Homo sapiens: one gene and its partner. The protein of the gene in region 2 purifies or fractionates together with the protein of the main gene of each other region. This does not show direct contact. Each region holds a gene or a part of one and is shown on either strand. Other genes may lie near its edges. The genes, in order: MYO1D and BTD.

Region 1 (12,612 bases), on a different chromosome or scaffold from region 2:
ATAGTGGAGGAGGCAAGCCCAGAGAAAAGAGAGGGTAGAGACATGGGCCGGGGTCGGGGGGTGGGGGTAGGGAGTGGGGTGGGGTTGGTACTTGCCACCCAGGAAAGTGGTGCTTGCCACCAAGGTGAAGGATCAAGGCAAGTGTCCCCACAGTGATCAGACACCAATGGAGTGTGGGTGAATAATCAGGCAGGCGTCCCTGCAGTGATTAAACACCAAGGGAAGACTGTCTTCCCGAATCCGTGACCGGTGCTGAAGTTTTGTGTTCACAGATAAAACACGTCTCCTCTGTCTCTACCAGAAAAGGAAAGGAACTGAAATTAAGGGAAGGGGGAGATTGAAGGGTGGCGCCGAAATTGAAAGGAGAAAGAGGTTGAGGGATAGTAAGAGAGGTTGGAGAAGAGAGTAAAAAGAGGCCGCTTACCTGATTTAAAATTGGTGAGATGTTCCTTGGGCTGGTTGGTCTGAGGACTTGAGGTCGTAAGTCAGTCTTTCTCACAGAGCAAAGAGCAGGAGGACAGGGGATTGATCTCCCAAGGGAGCTCCCCCGATCCAAGTCACGGCACCAAATGTCATTAGTTAAGGCAAGAATCTGCCATTTTCACTTCTTATGTGATTCTTCAGTTGCTTCAGGCCATCTGGATGTATACGTGCAGGCTTGGGCTCAGAGGCCTGACAGTTCCCTAAGAAAGTGGCTCCTGTTTTATTTTAGGGGCACATTTTCGGGTTAACCATTTTAATGTGTTTTTTCTTAGTCTCGAGTGATTGTGCAACAGCCAGGAGAAAGAAGCTTTCATTCTTTCTATCAGGTTAGTAATCCATTATACAGATAATTGATCATTTGCCCAGTTGTGCAGGAAATGAGTATTTGTGTCTTGGGCTTTCCCCTGTCCTATGCATCACTCATCTCCATTGGCCCCGTAACATGTCACGCATGCACGCACGCACGCACGCACCACATGCCCTGCCCTACCTGCTTAAGAGATTGGATGAACATGACTGTTCCACCCAGCTGGCAGGAGCTTAGCCAACCAGATGACTGCCTTGGGTGAGCATCCCCCATATTTTCTTGCAGTACAGATAACACTTTAATGACTGTGAAAGCTTTTGAAATGGTACATTCTAAATGTTAAATTAATTTTTGTTTTATTTTGAATTGAAGCTGTTGTTTCCATATTTGGGAGTTCTAGAGATCAGAATACAAATTCAGTTTGTTTCACTCATACACACTAAAAGCAATATGATTACTTTTAAAAAAACAATCTGGATTTATAACTTCTAGGGAGGATTGCCTTTTTAATCCATCAAGTTTAGAAAAAAATTTGAGTATTTATTTTCAAGAGTGCTTTTAGATTTTAAAGCAAAATCTTTTAAATAGCCTTCCTGTTGGCAAGTCTTTACACTTAGAAAACAAGTATGATATATTATTGTAAGTTTTTAAAGCCCAAATTAATGTAAATCAAGGTTAACAGAAAGTAACTGAACGGTGACAATACAATTGGATGCAATTCAGTCGAATTCAGTTTCTTCTAGGTAACTGCTTTAATAGACACTACTCATTTGTATATATAAGTTCTGGTATATTAAGTTTAAAAATCAATTTTTAAAATCTGATAATTAGACTTTTTAAGTAAACAAAAGCATACAGTTTAATTTAGAGAATTTAAACCTAATACCTTCCAAAAACATGCTCTATATAAAAGCACTGTCAATATTGTGTTTATGGTTCTGTTGGCAATTTGCCATGTTTTAAATAAGCTATTTTTCTACCAAATATAAAAGAGTTCTGTTTATTTCAATAACCTGTAACTTTTTCCCAGTGTTCTTCCCACTTGGGTGAAAGTATTAAAATTTATCTTTATCCAATACTACAATCATGGTTCCCCAGCTGTCCTCTTTTCCTGAGAGGTACAGATTGATGAGGAAAAGCTGTTTGTTTCCAGTGTGATTCAGCATATGACTGTCTGCTGATGTTTCTTACTTCCGTAGCAATATTGACTTTTTCTAAATTCTGAGACAGAACTATATCCTGTCTATAGTGAGGCTGCTAAGCAAGCAACCACCACAGAGCATAGGATCCTGTTTTACAAATGACGGCATTCAAAGCAAGAAACTTTTATGCCAGTTATATTGTAAATGAGATGAGACATTTTCAGAGTAATTTTCTTTATGACTGCATAACATTCTCTGTAACTGATGACATTGAAGCCATTTACCTTGAATGTTTAAAAAAACAAACAAGCAAAACTTCAAAGCTAGAAACAGGAAGACATAAGTGAATTAAGCCCAGAAAATGAATAAAAGCTAGATTACCACTAAGTTCATGTTTGGTTCAATGTATGTCTGGCCAATTTATTTCTAATTAAATATTTTTCAGCTACTCCAAGGAGGTTCAGAACAAATGCTACGCTCTCTACATCTCCAGAAATCCCTTTCATCCTACAACTATATTCATGTGGGAGCTCAATTAAAGGTGAGAATTTCCTCTTTGAGATTGCTCCAATAGAAAATCAGTCAAAGGATTAGAAGAGACATTCAATAATTATCTGGTCAAGCCTGCTATCTTTAGGCAAATAAACATCTCTTTTATCCTGTTCTATTTTTTAAATTCTCAAGGACAGAGATTCAGCACATTTTTGAATCAACAACTTTGCTTAAAATCAATTATGATATTTTATCACCATCTGACAGGAAAGAAGTTTTTTCCTACATTCAATGTTTTATTTTAATTTTTAATCCTATCCCTATTCCGTTTATTTTCACACTATAAAAATATTGATAGGACTAGGAAGCCTACCTCCTAAGAAGATTCCATATGATTTGGCCAAAGGCAAGTTAGTAAGACAAAATTAAAATGCACTTTGATTCTCCACTCACTGTTTGTTCAAATGTTGATTTTGATGTACCCTAGAAATAATTTTGTGACCTTTGAGGCATTCCTATTCAGCTTTCAAGTTTTTCCATTTTTTCTCTTTTCTTGCATGCAAGCACTTGCATACACTTACATGCAGGCGTATTTTTGCTCTTTTATTTCTAGTTCATTTTATTTCTAGTTCATCTAGTAATTTTACAACTAATTATAATAATAGTTTGTTGATAATAGTTACACTATTATCCTATTTCGTAGGAGGGAAGGTATATAAATGCATATAATAAGATATGGTAGGATATAGATCACAGTATTAATTATTTATTCTAGATGGGTGAGATTATGGATATTTGTGTTCTGTTTTTCCTTATTTAAAAAAATTCTACATCAAAAACTTACTGCTTTCATATTTGGGGGAGAAATAAAAGAAACTGTAAAGGAAAAAGATCTAAGATATGGGAGCTATTTCTTTAAAAAATTCTATTAATCAAAATAAGCTAATTATACCTGCATTATTGGTTTAGCTGTATTTTTATTGCTGTGCATAGAAATTAATGATATTTTGGTTTTTGCAATTAATTTTCCATTATTTGACATTTAGGTTACAACAACTTTACTTTTATGGTCATCTGAGAGCGAGCAGGATGTTTGGCTGAAAATGAATTAAAAACAAAAAACAGTAGAGGGCAACACTCCACCTCTCTGAGAACTAGCCAGAGGCACTTAAAGAATTGTGAAATCAACACCTGGAAAGCCAGTGACTGGGAATGTTTGTTTTCAAATTGTCTTATCGACTAAGTTACTTTTGACCAAGTCGTGTAGAGTCCCCACAGAAAGCAAGTATTAAATTAATAGCCTTTTTTCTAGGTTAAATTTAGCTTAGATTCCCTTTTTATCAAAAATTTCCATGTCTGCTTTCCCCACCTTTTTTTTTTTGCTTCCTAAGAAAACAAAGAACTAATAAATGATCATAGTCAAAACCTAAACTATGAACCAAAAGGAAACAAAAATACACTAAATCTTACCATACAGAAATGATTATTGATAATGGTTTGCATCTATATTTATAAATGGAATCATACAATAAATCCTAATTAAATAAACCTGTTTTTATTATAATCTTTCCATGCAAACAAATATAAATTAATATAATAATTTTTATAACTATTAAGTATTGCACTGTGTGTATCTTAACCAGTTCTAAAATGCAGGAGTCATATACAGTTAAGATATTTTGGGTTGCAAGTAGGAGAAGACCCAATTAAAAGTCTCCAAAAACAATAAGAAACTTAATTATCTAGCATAACAAGAAACTCTGAGATAGGACAATTCCAGAATTAGTTAGTTCATTGCCTTAACAATGTTGTCAGGGACCCAGGTGTTTTTTTGGTTGTTTCCCCAACTTACAACTCTGCCACACTCATGGACAGCTCTGTCCTCTTAGGCTGGTTTTCCTTTTAGTCCCAAAATGTCATCAGAATTTCCAGGAGTCACCTGCAAAGGAGATGTTCATGGCATATGTCCTTTATAAGCTAGGGAAACCTCCCCAAGAACCCTCCTCCACTCATCCCCCATAAACACTTTCCCTCATGTTGTATTGATCAGAATGGCATCCCATGCCTGTGGCTAACCAGTCATTTAGTAAGGGAAATAAGATCACTCTGATGAGTTTAGACCAGTGAAGATTTACCTCTTGAGGCTAGGTAGATGCCAGTCACAAAGGACATGCACACTTAGAGAGGAGTAAACAAATCAGGGTTCGATTGGCAAGAAAGAAATGAGGGTAGAGGATGGCTGTTAGGTAAGCAGCCAACAGTTCCCCACAGTAGGACATTTAGATTTTATCCAGTTACTTTCCAACTTCAACATGGTTGCAGTTTATAATAATAGTAATATCTGATACTGCTGAGTGGTTTTTTTTTGTATGCTGGTGCTAGAGAGGTGCTTTATATAAATTTTCATTCAATTCTGACAACCACCCTGTAAGATATATGTTATTATGCCCATTTTATTTGTGAGGAAGTTGAGGTTCAATGAGGTTAAGTATCTTGTCCAAGGTAAAAACAAAAACCTAGGAGGAGGAGGGGCTGGCCTGGTTGTCTCCTGGACACTAGAGGAACTTGTACTCACCAGGCAGAGAGGTCCCCTTCCAGGGCCCTTCCTCAACAAGTGAGCATCAGGCCAGGTCTCTGTATCCAAACAAGAGGAGAAACTTACTGAGGAAAGAATTGGTCAAGCCTCTGCGGCTGCTGCTGTGGTAAAACTAATATAAGCAGTTACTATTGCTTTATTGCGAATTTCTGTTTACGCACTTGTATTTCCAATGTGATGGCCACAGCTCTAAAAGGGCAGGCGATTCATCTTTGAGCTGCCTGTACCAGTTAGTAGAGCTGACTTGTGAAATGCGTATCAAGTGAGTGAAAGAATGAAGTTATAGTCCCAGACTATTTAATAGCTTACTAAATGACTGAGGCTGGCTGTTTTGCTTTTGAGGGCCCGCCTTGCCTCACCTGGAAAATAAACCGCCTGATTATACGAGAGTGAAGTGTTGTTGCCAGCCTAAATAAGACAATTGTGGAACAAAGAGCCACAAACAACAGTAGCCAAGCATGTATCTTGGAGGCTCCCACATTCAGCACTTGCATTTGTGATCTCACATCCATGCTGTTGCCTTCACTGATCATGGAGTGGGGGATCAGCTTGTCTGAGCCAGCTCAGGACTTGCTCCCTCACTGAAGGTTCCAGAAAACGGCACAGTGCTTATTTTAGGTGATGGCTTTCACGCACAAGTGGGCTTTGTACGTGCTGAATAATGTTGCAACTCGTGAAATCATTTTTATTTTCTCTGGAGACTCACCATCCCCTCAAGTGATTTACTATGAAGGCAAAACCTTGGTATAACTTAGTTTTATAATTGTTGAATTTTAATGCTCATAGGAAATATCTGTAACTTCAGTTTTTCATTTTCATCCCCAGTCTTCTATCAATGATGCTGCCGAATTCAGAGTTGTTGCTGATGCCATGAAAGTCATTGGCTTCAAACCTGAGGAGATCCAAACAGTGTATAAGATTTTGGCTGCTATTCTGCACTTGGTGAGTAGGGACACCTCTCAGAATGTATTGTCTTCTGCTGAGAACAGGATGCTTTCTCAGAAGATTTTGTTTTTTCCCTGTAGATTTAAAAAGTATTCAGAGAAAATTTTGTACGTATTTTGAAGAAATTACTATGTCTGTGGTTCTTGCCATCATTTTATAATATTATGAGGGATTTTCCAAGCTACTATAGGGTTGGAGACTACTACTTCAGTTGATTGTCTTACTGGTATTGTCAAACTTTGAACTGGTTAATTTTAAGGATAAAGGAATTCAGCAGTGATGTGACTACTAGTGGTATAAATTTCTAGTGGCATTTGAAACATAGAATCATAGGTTATCGGAACTGGATTTTTAATCATCTCATTTTACAGATTGGGAAATAGCCCTGATGGGTGGCATGACTACCTCAAAGGCACAGCCAGCTCATCCCAGAGCCAACACCATAGACCACTTTTGGGCCACTTGTTTCCCACTATACCACACCAAACTTAGAAGTGAAGAACTGTGTGTTAGATTTCTTTCATTAACATTTATATAATTAGAGATACTTAAAATACACTGAACATATAATCTTACAATAAGAATGACAACATGGATTCAAATCTGGAATAAAAATTACTTTTCACTTAATATAGCAAGATTTAACTCTAAATGAATCAGAAATGTGCAGGATCTTTATGAAAAATATTATATAGCAATATAAACAATAAATGTTCCTGACTAGGAAGACTTTAGTATTATAAATTGTCTCATCTGTTTGAATCAGTTTTTAAATACAGTGCAGCAGTCCTTTTCAGAATCCAAACAAGAATTTTATTTTTTGTTGTTTTGTTTTCTTTTTGAGATGGAATCTCGCTCTGTCACCCAGGCTGGAGTGCAGTGGTGCAATCTAGGCTCACTGCAAGCTCCACCTCCCGAGTTCATACCATTCTCCTGCCTCAGCCTCCTGAGTAGCTGGGACTACAGGCGCCTGCCACCACGCCTGGCTAATTTTTTTTATTTTTAGTAGAGACGGGGTTTCACCATAGCCAGGACAGTCTCGATCTCCTGACCTCGTGATCTGCCCATCTCAGCCTCCCAAAGTTCTGGGATTACAGGCGTGAGCCACTGTGCCTGGCCTTTATTTTGTTTTTAACTTGACCTGTTGATTCTAGAATTTACCTGGAAAAAGATCAAATAAAGTATATTAAAGAAGTGTCGTATAGGGTAGGGTAAGGGAGGAGAGGGAACATGACTAGTTCTACCAAACTTAAAATGATAGTAAAAGCTAGAGTACTTTATAACTTTGCACAAGTTCAGCACCAGATCAACAGATTAATCAACTGATTGGTTAATGTGCTGGACATTTGGTAGATGGTTATAAGTATGTATTGCTTATTGAATGAGTGGAATATAAATAGACTCAAACACTTGAGGAGATTTAACATATTAAAAAGGTGACATTTCAGCTGGGCGGGGTTGCTCACACCTGTAATCCCAGCACTTTGGAAAGTTTGAGGTGGACAGATTGCTTGAACCCAGGAGTTCCAAGACCAGCCTGGGCAACATGGCAAAACCCCATCTATACAAAAAATACAAAAATTAGCCAGGCATGGTGGCACGCATCTGTAGTCCCAGCTATTTAGAGGGGCTGGGGGTGGAAGGATCGCTTAAGCCTGGGACGTTGAGGCTGCAGTGAGCCATGGTGCACCACTGCATTCCAGCCTGGGTGACAGACCCTGTCTCAAAAAAAAGGTGACATTTCAAATCAGAAAAAGCTAGACTGTTCAATAAGTCCCGTTAGAGCAACTAATCATGTGAAAAATAAAGTTAGATTCTTACTTGATACCATGTACCAAAATCAATTGTGGATGGATTAAAAAGTTTAAGGAAAAAGGCCAGGCGCGGTGGCTCACGCCTGTAATCCCAGCACTTTGGGAGGCCGAGGTGGGTGGATCATGAGGTCAGGAGGTCGAGACCATCCTAGCTAACATGGTGAAACCCTGTCTCTACTAAAAATACAAAAAATTAGCTGGGCGTGGTGTCAGGCACCTGTAGTCCCAGCTCTTCAGGAGGCTGAGGCAGGAGAATGGCGTGAACCCAGGAGGCAGAGCTTGCAGTGAGCCAAGATCGCACCACTTGCACTCCAGCCTGGGCGACAGAGCGAGACTCTGTCTCAAAAATAAATAAATAAATAAAATAAAAAGTTTAAGGAAAACAAAAACTATAAAAGCATTAGAGGAAAGCATCAAATGCTCATAAACCCTTTGGAGTAGGAATGGTCTAAGTATGACACCAAAGAAAGAGAGACCCTAAGGCAAAAGATTCATAGATTCGATTACATAAAAATGTAAAACTTTTATCTATCAAAAACATACACTGAAAGCAAAAAGATAGATGAGTGTCCGGAGAAAGGGAAAAAGTAGATGAAACACTGTTTTTATATGTTGAGATGTATAATGTATTTAGGAAAATAGGTACAAACAAGGTCACCTGAATTGTATTTTATATTGGCAAATATATCCTTGACATAATGTTTCATAATGTGTTATTTTTTTCACTTTTGATACAGGGAAATTTAAAATTTGTAGTAGATGGTGACACGCCTCTTATTGAGAATGGCAAAGTAGTATCTATCATAGCAGAATTGCTCTCTACTAAGACAGATATGGTTGAGAAAGCCCTTCTTTACCGGACTGTGGCCACAGGCCGTGACATCATTGACAAGCAGCACACAGAACAAGAGGCCAGCTACGGCAGAGACGCCTTTGCCAAGGTGAGAGTGTAACTGACCCTATGTCACCTGGTGTTGATCGCAGTTGCAAATTGAGTGAAATCCTGTGAGCATGTATTCAGACATTCTTGAAAGAGGGTTAAGGCTTTTAGAAACCATAATGATACTTTCTGGCCATACAAGCCTCGGTAAAACTCCCAGATGTAAGTAAGCATCACTGCCAAAAAAGGTTCTGAGAAGAGTGGAAGCTGACTGGGGGTGGCGCTCATGAGGGCTTCACGTGCTGCTTCTCTCACTCAATAATGCTTCGCCAGAGTCAACTGACTGAGCTCTGATCCATTTTTTTTAAGTTTTATTTATTTTTAATTGACAATAATTGTATATGTTTATGGGTACAGTGGGATATTTCAGGACATGTACACATTATGGAATGATCAGATCAGACTAATTAGCATACCTCTTACCTCACCTACTTACCATTTATTTGTGGTGAGAACATTTAAAATCCACTCTTAGCAATTTGAAACAATATTATTAGTATTATTATTAACAGTCACCACGCTTTGCAGTGGATCACCACAAATTATTCTTCCTGTCTAACTGAAACTTTACCCTTTGACTAACGTCTCACACTTTCTCCATCCACCCCGCTCCTCTAGCCTCTGGTAATCACCATTCTATTCTCTGCTTCTATGAGTTTGACTTTTTCAGATTGCATATAGGTGAGATCACACAATATTTGTCTTTTTGTGCCTGGCTTATTTCACTTAGCATAATGTCCTCCAGGGCTGTGTACTAAGCCTGCAGTGATAGTACCACAATTTATTTAACCACCTTACTCTTAAGTCACCCACTTTACTTCCCTTTTTTGCAACTGCAAACAATGCTGCACGTCTTTATACATCTATGCTTATATACTAGTGCTTTTGTTTCAGCTGGATGGATTCCCAGGAGTGAGCTTGCCAGGTCAAAGGGTATACTTATTTTATTTTTATTTTTTGAGACGGAGTCTTGCTCTGCCATCCAGGCTGGAGTGCAGTGGCACAATCTTGGCTCACTGCAACCTCCACCTCCCGGGTTCAAGTGATTCTCCTGTCTCAGCCTCCCAAGTAGCTGGGATTACAGGAGTGTGCCACCACGCCCAGCTAATTTTTGTATTTTTAGTAGAGACAAGGTTTCACCATGTTGACCAGGCTGGTCTCGGACTCCTGACCTCAAGCGATCTACCTGCCTTGGCCTCCCAAAGTGCTGGGATTACAGGCGTGAGCCACCGCACCTGCCATATATTTATTTTAAACTTTAAATTTACTGATTTTATGGCTGCATGGTAATATTTTATTGTTACTTTTATTTCATTACTAGTATATTTGAGCATCTTATCATATTTTTGTAGAGTATTTTAACATATTCTAAGAATTGCCTGGGTATATCTTTTGTGCATTTTTCTTTGGAGCTGTTATCTTTTTATTGTCAATTTCTAAGTGTTCTTAGCATATCATAAACTTTAACCCTTTGTTATCTGTGTGGCAAGCGTTGTATTTTCTCACGTCTAACTTTCGTTGTTGTTGTTTTGCTGGTTGATTAGTTTACTGTCTATTTCATTTTTTACTCTTGTAAGTCTTAGGCTTGGTTTTTAGTTTTGGGGGAATTTGAATTTTTCCTAAGTGCAATGGAGAGCAATAGGGAGGACTTTAAGGAGGGGCAATGACATCAAGTTTGCCTTTTTTTTTTTTTGAGATGGAGTCTCGCTTTGTTGCCCAAGCTGGAGTGCAGTGGCACAATCTCAGCTCACTGCAAGCTCTGCCTTCCGGGTTCATGCCATTCTCCTGCCTCAGCCTCCCAAGTAGCTGGAACTACAGGCGACCGCCACCACGCCCAGCTAATTTTTTATATTTTTAGTAGAGACAGGGTTTCACCATGTTAGCCAGGATGGTCTCCATCTCCTGACCTTGTGATCCACCCTCCTCGGCCTCCCAAAGTGCTGGGATTAGGTGTGAGCCACCGCACCCGGCCGTTTTTTTGTCTTTTTTTTTTTTTCTTTTTTTTTTGAGACGGTGTCTCTCTGTCACCCAGGCTGGAGTGCAATGGTATGATCTCAGCTCACTGCAACCTCCACCTCCCGGGTTCAAGCAATTCTCCTGCCTCAGCCTCCTGAGTAGCTAGGATTACAGGCACCCGCCACCATGCCTGGCTAATTTTTGTATTTTTAGTAGAGATGGGGTCTCATCATGTTGGCCAGGCTGGTCTCAAACTCCTGACCTCAGGTGATCTGCCCACCTCAGCTTCCCAGAGTGTTGGGATTACAGGCATGAGCCACTGCACCTGGCAAGTTTGCATTTTTAAAATGATCACTCTGGCCTTAGTATGGAGAATGTTATGGGGGCTAGAGTAAGAATGGAAGCAAAGAGGTCAATTAAGGGGATATTTTGTTAATCCAGGAAAGAGATGAGGGCAGCTTGAATCAGAAAAGTGAAAGTACAAATGGGGAGAGGAGGATGATTTGAAATGGACTGTGTTGAGAAAATAAAATCCATAGGACCTATTATGTGGAGAATGAGAGAAGCAAGAATAATACTTTAACATGGTCTGGCTCCAGCCCACCTCTCCCACCTCATTTTATACTATACCCAGCCCCCCTTTCTTCAGCCCAGCACATTAGTCTTCTCTCAGTCCTCACAGATTATCCTGATCCCTTTCTCCTTCCAGTCACAGGGCCTGTGCACATCTGTTCCCTCTGCTTGGACTGCTCTTCTCTCCTCTCTTGCTTGGCTACCTCTTACTCATCCTTCTGGTCTCAAGTATCACTTTCCCAGAGAGGCCTTCCCTAACCTTCCTGAGCACTGCATAGATTAAATTTCCCTAAGACCCCATGTACCTCTCCTTTAGTGTGGATGTTTATCTGCGAGGTGGGGGGCAAGTGAGAGAGACAGAGAGAATAATTTTTTCCTTCACTCTATTCCCTAAGTTTCTTGGACATTGAGACTATGTTTGTGTTTGCCTAGACCTGTATCTCTAACAAACTATATATAATAAGTATTCAGCAAATATTTGTTGAATAAATCAGTGAATTTCTAAGTGGTGCTATTTATTTGTGGCTAAAAGTAGGATAGGAACAGTTGTTGGAAGAGGAAAGATCAAGAGTCCTTTGAGTTTGAGATGGCTGTGAGCCATTGAAGAGTCAGTGTCAGGTAGACAGTCAAGCTCTTGAGTCAGGAGCTCAGAGACTGTTCTCTGAGTCTGGATTTGGATAATACTTTTGGGAGTCATATTATATTTGTATTATTTAATCCTGGGTGAGATGATTTAGAAGGTGCTAGAGAGTGAAGAGAAGAGGACCAGGAAGAACTCCAACTTTTACAAGTCAGGTAGAAGAGGAGACTCTACCAAAGGTCACCAAAAAGGAACATCCAGTGAACAAAGAGTAAAATTCAGAAAGGCTATTATCCGAAATCCAGAGAGAAGAGTGTTCCAAGAAGGCAGTGAAAACCTAGGTTGAGTGATGCTGAGCGACAGAGCAAGATGTCCATATGAGGTACGAGAAGTATCTATGTAGAGGTGCTGGGAGTCTTTGATGAGCCATTTCAATGGAGTAATAGGATGTAAGTGGAGACTGGAGTGGATTGAAGAGTAAAGGGGAGGTAATGGATATGGGTGAAGAGAGTGGGTAGCTGGCAGGAGACGTTAAGGAAGGTTTTCTAACGATGTGACGTTGCAGAGCACATGTGTATCGGGATGTGAATGTGTGTTAGCGTGTGGCACCTTTGTCCATGTGTGGCTTAGTGTGTGTGTTCTTGTGCATTGGATGTGTGTTCGATTCTCAGGGAATTTCAACCCTTGATCTTTGGCTCAGATCTTCATTTAGCATTAGAAATCAATATTTATATTTTTTAGAATTCATATAGCTTTAGTGGATCATAGATATTAACTCACTAGC
Region 2 (12,612 bases):
TGAGATTGGGCCACTGCACTCCAGCCTGGGGGACAGATCGAGACTCCGTCTCAAAAAAAATAATAAAATTAAATTTAAAAATAAATAAATAAAAGCAAGATAGTTACTTCCTAGATACAATGGGTGCACGGGAGTGAGGTAAATATACCCGTTCCAAATGGGAGAAATTGGTCAAGACAAAGGGGCTAAAGCCCCCATGCAAGTTCAAAATCTGGCAGGGCAGTCAAATATTAAAGCTCCAAAATGATCTTTGGATCATTTTGACTTCGTATCTCACAGCCAGATCATGCTGATGCAAGAGGTGGGCTCCCACAGCCTTGGGCAGCTCTGCCCTTGTGGTTTTACAGGCTACAACCCCCTCTCCCAGCTGCTTTCACAGGCTAATATTGAGTGTGTGCAGCTTTTCTAGGCACATGGTGCAAGTGGTCAGTAGATCTACCATTCTGGGGTCTGGAGGACGGTGGCCCTCTTCTCACAGTTCCACCAGCAGTGCCCCAGGAGGGACTCTGTATGGGGGCTCCCACCCCACATTTCCCTTCCACACTGCCCTAGCAGAGGTTCTCTATGAGGGCTCTACCCCTGCAACAAGCTTCTGCCTGGACATCCAGGCATTTCCATACATCCTCTGAAATCTAGGCAGAGGTTCCCAAACCTCAATTTTTGACTTCTGTGCACCTGCAGGCTCAACACCATGTGGAAGCTGCCAAGGCTTCAGGCTTGCACTGTCTGAAGCCAGGCCTGAGCTGTACATTGGCCCTTTTTAGCCATGGCTGGCATGGCTGGGATGCAGGACACCAAGTCCCTAGGCTGCAAACAGCAGGGGGACCCTGGACCTGACCCATGAAACCATTTTTCCTCCTAGGTTTCTGGGCCTGTGATGGGAGGGCCTGTTGTGAAGGTCTCTGACATGCCCTGGAGACATTTTCCCCATTGTCTTGGTGATTAATAGTTAGCTTCTTATTACCTATGCAAATTTCTGCTGCCAGCTTGAATTTCTCCCTAGAAAATGGGTTTTTATTTTCTACTGCATCGTCAGTCTGCAGATTTTTCAAATTTGTATGCTCTGCTTCCTCTGGAACACTTTGCCATTTAGAAATTTCTTCTGCCAGATACCCTAAATCATCTCTCTCAAGTTCAAAGTTCCACAGATCTCTAGGACAGGGGCAAAATGCCACTAGTCTCTTTGCATAGCAAGAGTGACCTTTACTCCAACTCTGAATAAGTTCCTCATCTCCATCAGAAACCACTTCAGCCTGAATTTTATTGTCCATATCACTATCAGCATTTTGGTCAAAGCCATTCAATAAGTCTCTAGGAGGTTCCAAACTTTCCCACATTTTCCTGTCTTCTGAGCCCTCCAAGTCTCTAGGAAGTTCCAGACTTTCCCACATTTTCCTATCTTCTTCTGAGCCCTCCAAACTGTTCCAACTTCTGCCAGTTACCCAGTTCCAAAGTTATTTCCACAGTTTCGGCTGTCTTTACAGTAGTGCCCCACTCTCTGCATTACCAATTTTCTGTGTTAGTCCCTTTTCATACTGCTATGAAGAAATACTCAAAACTGGGTAATTTATAAAGAAAAAGAGGTTTAATAGATTCACAGTTCCACATGGCTGGAGAGACGTCACAATCATGGTGGAAGATGAAGGAGGAGCAAAGGCACGTCTTACATGGCGACAGGCAAGAGAGTGTGTGCAGGGAAACTCCCATTTATAAAACCATCACAGCTTGAGACTTATTTGCTATCACAAGAACAGCATGGGAAAAACCCTCCCCAATGATTCAGTTACCTCCCACCAGGTACCGCTCATGATATGTAGGGATTATGGGAGCTATAATTCAAGATGAGATTTGAGTGGGGACATAACCAAACCATATCAGGGACCCATCTCAGAGGGTGACTTCTTTCAAGTCTCAGAGTGTATCTAAAAAGAAAATGCAGATTTTGTATTATACTCTAGAATGTATCCATATTTTAATTTTAAAATGACATTTATTGAGATATAATAAAGATACAATTCAATGTCCAGATTTTAAATGTTAGATGAGTTTTGACAGTTATATATATATATATCTATGAAATCACCACCCAAAATAAAAATGACATTTTAAACTGCTTACCTGTCAAGTAAAATTGACATTCCAGAAAGATGTGAAACGGGCTGGGCACAATGGCTCATGCCTGTAATCCCAGCACTTTGGGAGGCCGAGGTGGGCAGATCATCTGAGGTCAGGAGTTCGAGGCCAGCCTGGCCAATGTGGTGAAACCCCATCTCTGCTAAAATACAAAAATTATCCAGGTGTGGTGGCACATGCCTGTAATCCCAGCTATTCGGGAGACTGAGGTGGGAGAATCGTGTGAGCCAGGGAGGTAGATGTTGCAGTAAACCAAGATTGCACCACTGTACTCTAGCCTGGGTGACAGAGCGAGACCCTGTCTCAAAAAAAAAAAAAAAAAAAAAAAAGATGTGAAATCATCTTTGCACTTTGAGTAGTCCTTGACACAATGCCTCCTGTCCTTGTTGAAGAAGTACAGACTTCCCCTTCCATCATGTATTATTTATATCAGTACCTTTTGTGACAGTCTCTGCCCCTGTTGCATTAGAGTCACTTGGAAAGCTTTTTCCAAATAGTTACTTGGGCCCTACCCCAGATCTCCTGAATCAGCATCTTAGGACAAGTCAGGCACCTGTATTTTTTAAAAGCTGCTACCTGATTTTGCTTTGCAGCCCAGAGTTGAGAACCCTAGCTCTGTTTTCATGCCAGAAGCATGAGTTACTAATTAAACATATGATTGCCTGTCACCAAAGTAATACTGTTGATTAATTTGGATTGACAGGTTCAAGACTGATTTGACATTGACAGAACAAGCTGTATCGATGGTAGTCAGTTCACTGGGCCTACTTCTGTGTCAAAAGAAACAGTGACAGAACCACTCAGTATGAAGTGCAATGAAAACTGAACTCTGAATTGGAACAAATAACTGGAATTCAGTTAACTGGTTTTGCAAAAGGATAAATACTCAACTGGTTGTTTTCTGCCATTTAACAAAGAGAAAAATCATTGGGATTGTTTAAACTTGCTTTCACCTTTGCACCTTTCAGTTCAGGATGCAGTGTTCAATTGTTAACTTGGGCTTGATGATTCAGCAGAAAGAAATGATTTGAGTTCTGGCTCACTGGATTAACAGGGCCAAGGAGCAAGTCCTTTGCAATCCAATTGTAATTACAGCCAGCTTGTCCAACCCTTGGCCCAGGATGGCTTTGAATGCGGCCCAACACAAATTCATAAACTTTCTTAAAACATTATGAGATTTATGCACCGACCCTTTTTTTTGTTGTTGTTTTTGGTTTTTTTTTTTTTTTTTAGCTCATCAGCTATCATTTGTGTTAGTGTATTTTATGTATGGCCCAAGACAATTCTTCTTTTTCCAGTGTGGCCCAGGGAAGCCAAAAGATTGGATACCCCTGACAGGATTCCAGGATTCTTTTGTAATTTCTCAGAGGCCCTCTGTGCATACTCCGTAAGGACTATCCACATTCTTTATTACTTTCATTGGCAATAGGTATAAAATTTTATTTGTTGGATATTTTACTGAAATGTTACTTGTTTTTGCTTATTTACTGATTGGTGGGAGGAAGTCAAAGGATGAATAAATCTAACCTTTTTAAAAGAAAAGGCTAAAATACTCATAACATGCTCTCCAAAGAGCAGAGCTAGTCATCAAAGAATCTGCATACCAATTACTCTATTTGTAGGTTCTGGATTTGAGATTATGAAAAAGAGCAAATTGGTGGTTTTCTTCTCTCTGGGCCAGGGAGATATCCAGGCAACCAGGTAATTTAGTAAGAATTGCAAATATAGTGCCTGGAGACAATTTATTCTCTAAAGACTGCAGCTTCTACAGGCAGTAACTCTTAAAGCCCCCAAATTGGGATAGTGCATTTTAATTTCCGTATACTAACAAGGACACTAAAAATCCTTGTGATTATTTTAAAGCATAACACTAGCTGAACTTGTGATTAAGTATTCTCACAAATGTATTATCAAAATGTGAAATGTTTACTTATCAAATGAGGAAATGAATCAAGGTCATTTGTGATACATTATAGAAGCTAAAAATGAAATTGCCTGACATAAGATAAAACTGATACTGAATATCTTAAAAATAAAAAGGCGGAAACAACAAAAAAAGGAGTCTATGTAGAACACTATTTTTTATAGCAATGCAAAAACTGTACAGCCGGAAATGTGTTGTAGGAAATATGTCAACATAGGAAGTAAAATAATGTAATGAAAAGGTTCTTTGAATAAAGTGGGTTAAATTGATTTTCTTTGCTTCTCATTAAATCTGTGGACTTCAGAGTACCAAAGCTCAGCAACAGGCTTGAAACAAACCCAGTGAAAAGCAACTTTATTATTGAGCTGAGGATTGATATCAGTAATAACTCATTAATAAAAAAGCTTGATAATAAAAACTCCCAGTGCCTGATGCCAGCTGACAGACACTGGGAGTTTTCCCAGGTACCCTGTGACCTAGAGAAAGCTTGGATTCCTGCCTTTGGCTTGGGCTGGCAAGCCCTGTGCCTTTACTCTACATTTTAATGCCAGGGAGACCTGGAACTGGAGAAGGGAGTGCTGTGGGAAGAAAACAGAAGGAATGTTGTTCCCTTGTTTTAGCTTTGTGTTCATCCATTATGGGTTTTGGGTTTTTTTGTTTTTTGTGTTTTTTTAAGAACATTTGAGATAGTTTGACAGCAGCAGTCATTACATCACTGACGAGGACGTTTACTTGTGTAAAATGCACCAGGAAATAGTGACAACTGTATGTTGTGCTATGAGGATGTAAGAGATTTATCTCAAATGGCTTAGAAATCAAAATATAGGTCAGTGCGGTGGCTCACACCTGTAATCCCAACACTTTGGGAGGCCAAGGCAGGCGGATCACGAGGTCAGTAGATTGACACCATCCTGGCCAACATGGTGAAACCCCGTCTCTACTAAAAATACAAAAATTAGCTGGGCATGGTGATGTGCGCCTGTAATCCCAGCTACCGGGGAGGCTGAGGCAGGAGAACCACTTGAACCCAGGAGTTGGAGGTTGCAGTGAGCCGAGATTGCGCCCCTGCACTCCAGCCTGGCGACAGAGCGAGACTCCGTCTCAAAAAAAAAAAAAAAAAGAAATCATAGTATTTCTCCGTATGATGGAATTCCATACTCGGGGGAGTGTCCCACAGGGTAGGCAAGCAGCTATCACCCATGTAATATGGTACTAGTGTTGAAATATTTTCTGTTTTCACTTGCTTCTTCTGCCATTAGCATTCATTACAGCCCTTTCCTTTAACTTTTTAATTTGTACTTTATTGCTTTGTTTTGATAATAATCTATTCTCCATGTCAGCAAAACAAAGATTTATCTCTAGGGAAGAATCTCTGAGTGATTCCCAGGGTTTGGGGGTTGAACTGGGGACATCTTCATGATGAACTTAAGCCCTTAAACTTCTTTTTACATCATAACGTTTGAGTTCTTCTTTGGAGCTTAGCTGTGATTTATTCTTTTCACTTCAAAAAAAATACATTTAACATTTATGACATCTTTCAGACACATGAATAGGATCAGAGATTAATATACACCCATGTACCCAGCCCCTGGCTTAAGAAATACATCACAAATATAATGAAACCCCCGTGTGTCCTTTCCCCATTACACCTCCTTTCCTGTCCTACAGAGGTAACCACTATCTTGAATTTGGTGTTTGTAGTTCCCACATTATCCATTCTTTAGATGATCGATATTTGGTCATTTTTAGTTTTTTTGGAAACAGTGTGCTCTGAAATTCTTGCATGTTTCCTTCTTGTGCACATGTGTGAGAGTTTCTACATATATATCAAGGTGGAGGTCATCATCATTTGATCTCCAAAGTATTGTACCAATTTATACTCCCAACATTTGTGTATGAGAGCTACCCTTTCTCCATAGTCTCAACTGTGGAGCTTTAAAAATTTTTAAATGTGAAATGGCTTCTCAGTTCCATTTCTCTGACTACAAATGAGGTTAAGTTATATTTGTATATATATATTGGCCATGCGTGTTTCTTTTTCTGTGAATTACGTGTTTACATCTGTTGCACATTTCCTTATTGGATTATCTTTTGCTTTTTGATTTGTAGATGTCCTTTATGTATTCTGAATGCTAATTATTTGTCTTTTAACTTTGTTAATAGTGATTTTAGAGGTATAAAGGGTTTTTTTATAGTCACATTTGACAACTGGTCTTCCTTATTTTTTTTTTAATTTTTTTATTTTTTTGGTAACTTGCTAAAGAAAACTTTTTGTAACCTGAGGTTATGAAGATTTTTTTCTATATCAAAAAGTGTAAAGTTTTATTTTTCATATTTAAGTCACTACCTGGAATTGATTTTTGTTTGTTGAGAAGTAAGAATCCATATAATATGTCAATTAGATTTGCTGTGTAATTAACCACCCCAAAACTTAGTGGCTTAAAAGAACCACCATTTATTTAACATATATTCCTATGAGGCTGGTCTCAACTGGGCTCACCCATGTATCTGTTAGTCAGTTGCCAGTGAACTGAGTCACTCAGCCCCTGGAGGTTAGCTGGTTGTCCACTGGGATAGCGGGCATATTGCCAGTGAGCCACATAGCTCTACCACTCAGCAGGCTAGCTGGACTTCTTCATTGGATGGCAGCAGGTTGCAAAAGGGAATGAGCCTCATTGTGCAAGCCTCTATGTGCGGTGTTTGCTAACATCTCATTAGCCAAAGCAAGTTATGTGGCTGGGCTCAGACTCTAAGTTAAAGGCATTCGAGTTACATGATAATGGAACATGGATACAGAGAGGGGAGAAATTGCTGGCCTTTTTTATAGTCAATTTACCATAACATCCAGTTGTCCAAGCACCATTCATAATATAGTTCATTCTCATCCCAGTGATACATAATTTCCCCTCTGTGGAATGTCAAGCTCGCATATTTATGGGAGTATTTCTGTACTCTCTGTTCTTTTCCTATCCTAACACCAATCCCACACTATCTTAATTTCTGTGTTTTTAAAATAAGTCTTGATGTTGGTAGGACAAGTAGTCCCTGGACTTCATTCTTTTGAAGCCATCTTGTTTATTATATTAATTTTAAGCAACTAGAGGGGATGGAAGAGGAACCTTTAGATTAAAAGAGATTTAAAAGATAGGGTATTTTTTAATGGACAAGACTAAACTACAGTGTCTAGGGATGCACATTGGGTGATAAAGCTATTTTAAAAAACAAAGAAGTGATGAGTATAAAAGTCAGGGTCATGGTTACTTGATCCCTCATGGGTAATGTTGTCAGATTTAGAAAAAAAAAAAAAAACAGGACTCCAAAACTCCCAGTTGAATTTGAACTTTAGATGAACAATGCATAATTTTTTTTAGCGTAAGTATGTTCCAACATATTTATCTGAAAGTTAAATTTAACTGGGCCACCTGTATTTTACCTGGAAAAATCCTGATTTTATTCAAGGTGATAATGCAGTTTACATTGCCCAGCCTTCCTTGTAGCTAGGAGTGGTCACGCGTCCACACATGGGCCAAAGCAATTTAAATAGGAGTCACTGGGCAGGGCTTTTAGGAAAGCTGATGAAACTGGCAAGTACCCTCTGTACTCTTCCTCTGTACAACATGATAATTGGAGTTGTAGAAGTCATTTTGGAACCACAAGATGACTCTGAAAATGGAAGCTACATGCCAAGAAGTTAGGCCCAGAAAGAGAGGGATCCTGGGTCCTACATGACTCTTGCCTTTGTCAGGTTTTATTATCAGATTTTTATCACTTCATAAGAAAAAAATGCCTTCTTTTACTATATTCTCACACACATTGAGTAGCATTAGGATTATTTTTTCCTTTATAGTTAGAAAGAATTCTTCTAGAAACTATTTGGGCCTGTTTTGAGGGTGGAGAATGGGAGGGAATGATTGTTTGATAACTATTTCTTCTATGATTGTTGGCATGGTTTAGTTTTTTCTTTTATCCGAAGTTTTGGTAAAAATATATTTTTCAGTCCCAGCTACTCTGGAGGCTGAGGCACAAGGATTGCTTGAATCCAGGAGGCAGAGGTTGCAATGAGCTGAGATTGCACCACTGCACTCCAACCTGGGTGATGGCGTGAGACAGTCTCAAAAAAAAAAAAGAAAAAACAAATAATGTATTTTTTTTCTAGGAAACTACTCGTCTAAATTTTCTAGCTTATCAATATAGGATTGAATGAGGTGATTATTCTTTTTTAAAAAAAATTCTTCTGCATTTATAGATTTCTCTTTGTTTTGTATATTTGTTTCTCTTTTTTTTCTTAATTAGGCTAGCCGATCATTTGTCTTTACCTTTTTTTTTCTCTAAACAACAACTCCTTGGACATACTTATTCATTCTGTCATTTTTCTGTTTTCTAATTTAATTTCCACTCTTATTTTTATTTCCTTCCTTTTGCTTTCTTGAGCATGCCATTACTCTTTTCCTCACTGTTACCACCTTTTGTTAGTTTTACAATTTCTACATTGCCAGAGTTAATAACATTTGCACTGTGTTCTATAAATATAATCCTCATGTTTATTTTACATTCAAGGCTCTTGCCAGTTTTTCCATTCACCTCTTAATTGGCCGAAGATTACCCTCTATGCATTTTTTCAAAGAAGGCTGATGAGACTGATGAGAATAATAGTCCCTGAGTTCTTATATTTTCATACCTATTATCTGGTTTTTTTCTTTACTTCAACCATAGGTTGGCATAATATATAATTTCTGGCTTATATTTTATTTTCTGGAAGGATTCTATAGGCTTTTACTGGCATTGATGTTATTGTAGTAAAGTCTGAGGACAGCCTGATTATTTTGCCCCTAATAAATACCCTTGATCTTTTTATTTAGCTTCCCAAATGATTCTTACTTTATCTTTGAAGATCAAGAATTTTGCTAGGCTATCTGCCGATGTTGATGTTCTGTTCCTTTCTTTCTTGAGTTTTGCTATCTCTTTTCAAGCTATAAATTGAAATATGCTTTTATTTCTGGTGAGTTTTCTTCAATTACATCTTTAATTTTTTTTTTTTTTGCTTCATTATATGTTGTCTATTGTTGTATAAAAATTTACCCTACGACCTATTCAGCAGCTTAAAACAAGACCCATTTATTATCTCAAAGTCTCTATGTGTCAGGAGTCTGAGCATAGTTTTACTGGATCCTCTGGTCAGCATCTCACAAGGCTACAGTGAAGTTGTCAGCTGACCTCATGGTCTCATCTGAGGCTGAGTTTTCTTCCAAATTCAACTGATCGTTGAAAGAATGAATTTCCTTGCAGTTGTAGTATTCATGGTGGCTTGCTTCTTCAAGGTCAGCCGGGGAGAGAGTGTGTCTGAAATCTTGGAGCACCCCAGTTCTTTTTTTAAAGACCTGATTAATTCAGACCCACCAGGGTAATCTCTTTTGATTAACTAGATTAACTGGCTTGGGATTTTAACTACATATGTGAAAGCCCTTCACCTTTGTCATATTCTATTGGCTAGTAACAGAGTACAATTTCCACCTGCACTCAAGAAAAGAGGATTATACAAGGAGTCACCTTAGGGTGTGTCCACCACACATTATTTTTTTCTTTTATGCATTTTCCAATTATGCATATGATGGATCTCGTTCACTGTTCTCCCTGTCTATCATTTTCTGTGGACTCCTTTTCAATTCTGTATTTCCATTCATGTTGCTTATTTATTTACAGCATCATCTGATTTCTTTTGCTGCTTCTATCTTTGCCATAATTTCTTGATGTTTTAATTTTTTCTTCTGCTTCTTTCCTGAGCCCTGCCAGATAATATTTCATCTGTCTCCCAGCTTTCTATTCCCCACTCCCTTCTCCCTTCTCTCTTCTTCCCTCTTCCCCCTCCTTACCTTCTCCTCTTCTCCTCCTTTCCTCCCCTTCTCCCCTTTTTCCCTTTCATCTTTTAATTCTCTTGGTCTATTTTGTGCTTTTATTTAATATAAGCAGTTTTTTTTCACTCGTGGCAGAATGTTTTGTCACAGTTTTTATTTGTGTTGTGGCAATTTTCTGGGGTATAACCTTTGTTTTCGTATAGTATCTTTCAAAAGATCTTGAGCTTTTTATTTACTCATTTTTGAGTGAGTTTTTCCTCTACTGTAGGAGGTTTATGTGTGAACAAGGCCATTCTGGTTCACAGTTATTTTTTCTTAGCACATTTAAGATTTTGTTTTCTTACTTCTATTGTTACTCTTGAAAAGTCTGCTGTTTTCAAATCACCATATCTTTGAAGGCAATCTCTCTTCCCTCTGGTTGCGTCTAAGATTTTTTTCTTCTTCAAATATTTCGTGTTCTGGTTTCTTTATGTTGTGTATAGATTTCTTTTTGGTTGTCTTGAATCTATGGATTTCTGTATTTTATTATTAAAATTCTCACCTATTATACCTTCAAACATGTGTAATGTGTCATGTGTCATTTTATGTATTTTCTCCCTCTTTCTTTCTTTCTTTTTTTTTTTTTTTTAAGTCAAGGTCTTGCTCTGTCGCCCAAGCTGGAGTACAGTGGCACAGCCGTAGCCCACTGCAGCCTTAAACTCCTGGGCTCAAGCAATCCTACCACCTCAGCCTCTTGAGATGCTGGGACCGCAGGTGTACACCACCATGCCCAGCTAATACTTTTTTACTTTTTGTAGAGATTATATTGCCCAGGCTGGTCTTGAATTCCTGGCCTCAAGTGATCCTCTCATCTTGACCTCCAAAGTGTTGGGATTACAGGCATGAGCCATTGCACCCAGCCTCTATTTTCTCCTTCTGAAATTCCAATTAGAAATATCATGGAACATCATATATGTCTTCCATGTCTCATCTTCTTTTTTTCCCTTTTGTCATCTCTGTGGTACATTCTAAACAAATTTTTTAATGATTCTAACGGCCATGCCACAAAATGTCTCCATTTGGTTTTATTTGACAATATCTTTTTCTTTTTTTTTTTTTTTTTGACACAGAGTCTCTCTCTATTACCCAGGCTAGAGTGTAGTGGTGTGATCTTAGCTCACTGCCACCTCCGCCTCTGAGCTCAAGCAATCGCCCTACCTTAGCCACCCAAGTAGCTGGGACTACAGGCATGCACCACCACACACAGCTAATTTTTGTATTTTTTGTAGAGATGGGGTTTTGCCATGTTGCCCATGCTGGCCTCCAACTCCTGGGCTCAAGTTATCTTCCTGCCTTGGCCTTCCAAAGTGCTGGGATTACAGGCATGAGCCACCACTCCCAGCCAACAATATCTTATTCTTTTACCTGTTTTAGAGTCCTCTGAGTACTTCTTTAATCAACTTCAGTGTACTTATTTGAAAATTTTCACTAGTAATCCTTCCATCTGAAGTTGTTGGGGGCCTGATTTTGCTGTATTCTTTAACTTTCTTGCATAATATTTGCTTCCTTGTGTGTTTTGTAATTTTGAATTTTGAGCTCTTGTTTACCTTGTTCTTCAACCCAGGACACTCAGTCTTCAAGAAGAGAGTATGTGGATAGGCTTTTCCAGGCATCTTAGGACTGATAACATCTCAAAATCACTTTGTGCTCATTTCTTGGCATAGAGTTACCTGGGTCATGTATGTTGTGAGTTTTTGAATCATGAACCCACATAAGGAAAACCTTTGATTATGTTGGTTATGACTTTCAAGGAGTACTATTTTCCCCTGCTCAGAGCCCAAGATGAGATGTACAAGTTTCTACGTCAGATAGTTACTTTGGCAGGCAGGCAGATATTTGTTTTTGTCCATCCTTTCAATAAAGGAATCATTCCTTAAGGTTCCTAGCTATATGCACAGATCTCACTCCAACCTCCACATCTTGTCTTTCTGTCCTTCATGGTCTTTAAAATCTAAACCCCTTGGATATCAAGATTGGGACATGTTCCAGTATCACCTCACCACTCCAGTTTTCAGTTACTTGATTTTAGTTTTTATTTTTTAAATGCTTTTTTTAAAAGAGAAGTTTTATGCTCACAATAAAATTGAGCAGAAAGTACAGAAAGTTTACATATACTCCCTGTCCTGATACATGCATAGCCTTCCCTGTTATCAATATCCCAGACTAGAATGGTATGTTTGTTATAATCAGTGAACCTGCATTGACACATTATTATAACATGAAGTCCATAGTTTACATTAGGATTCACTTCTTTCTCCCTTAACACTTGGCAACCACTGATCATTTTACCATCTCTGCAATTTTGCTTTTTCCACCACTGGAAATGTTACATATTGGAATCATACAGTATGTAGCCTTTACAGATTGGTTTCTTTCCTTTAGTAATATACATCTAAGGTTCCTCCATATCTTTTCATGGCTTGATAGCTCATTTCTTTTTAGCACTGAATAATATTCCATTGTCTGAATGTATCACACTTTATTAATCCATTCACCTACTGAAGAATATCTTGATTGCTTCCAAGTTTTGGTAACTATGAAAAAAACTGCTATAAACACTCCTGTGCAGTTTTTTTGGAGACATAAGTTTTCTACTCCTTTGGGTAAATACAAAGAATACGATTGCTGAATCATATGATAAGAGTATGCTTCATTTTGTAAGAA

Evidence for each region.
Region 1: the proteins of BTD (region 2) and MYO1D purify together in Homo sapiens (affinity purification with mass spectrometry; 2 studies listed by BioGRID and IntAct, with this or other methods). This does not show direct contact.

Annotation. Positions count from the first base shown.
Region 1 is NC_000017.11:32,760,986-32,773,597, reverse strand, and holds part of MYO1D (unconventional myosin-Id), read left to right. Parts: intron 1-755; coding exon 756-809; intron 810-2,377; coding exon 2,378-2,473; intron 2,474-5,845; coding exon 5,846-5,962; intron 5,963-8,516; coding exon 8,517-8,720; intron 8,721-12,612. UniProt on the Homo sapiens protein: Unconventional myosin that functions as actin-based motor protein with ATPase activity. Plays a role in endosomal protein trafficking, and especially in the transfer of cargo proteins from early to recycling endosomes.
Region 2 is NC_000003.12:15,603,605-15,616,216, forward strand, and holds part of BTD (biotinidase isoform 1 precursor), read left to right. Parts: intron 1-2,836; exon of another isoform or gene 2,837-4,326; intron 4,327-12,612. UniProt on the Homo sapiens protein: Catalytic release of biotin from biocytin, the product of biotin-dependent carboxylases degradation.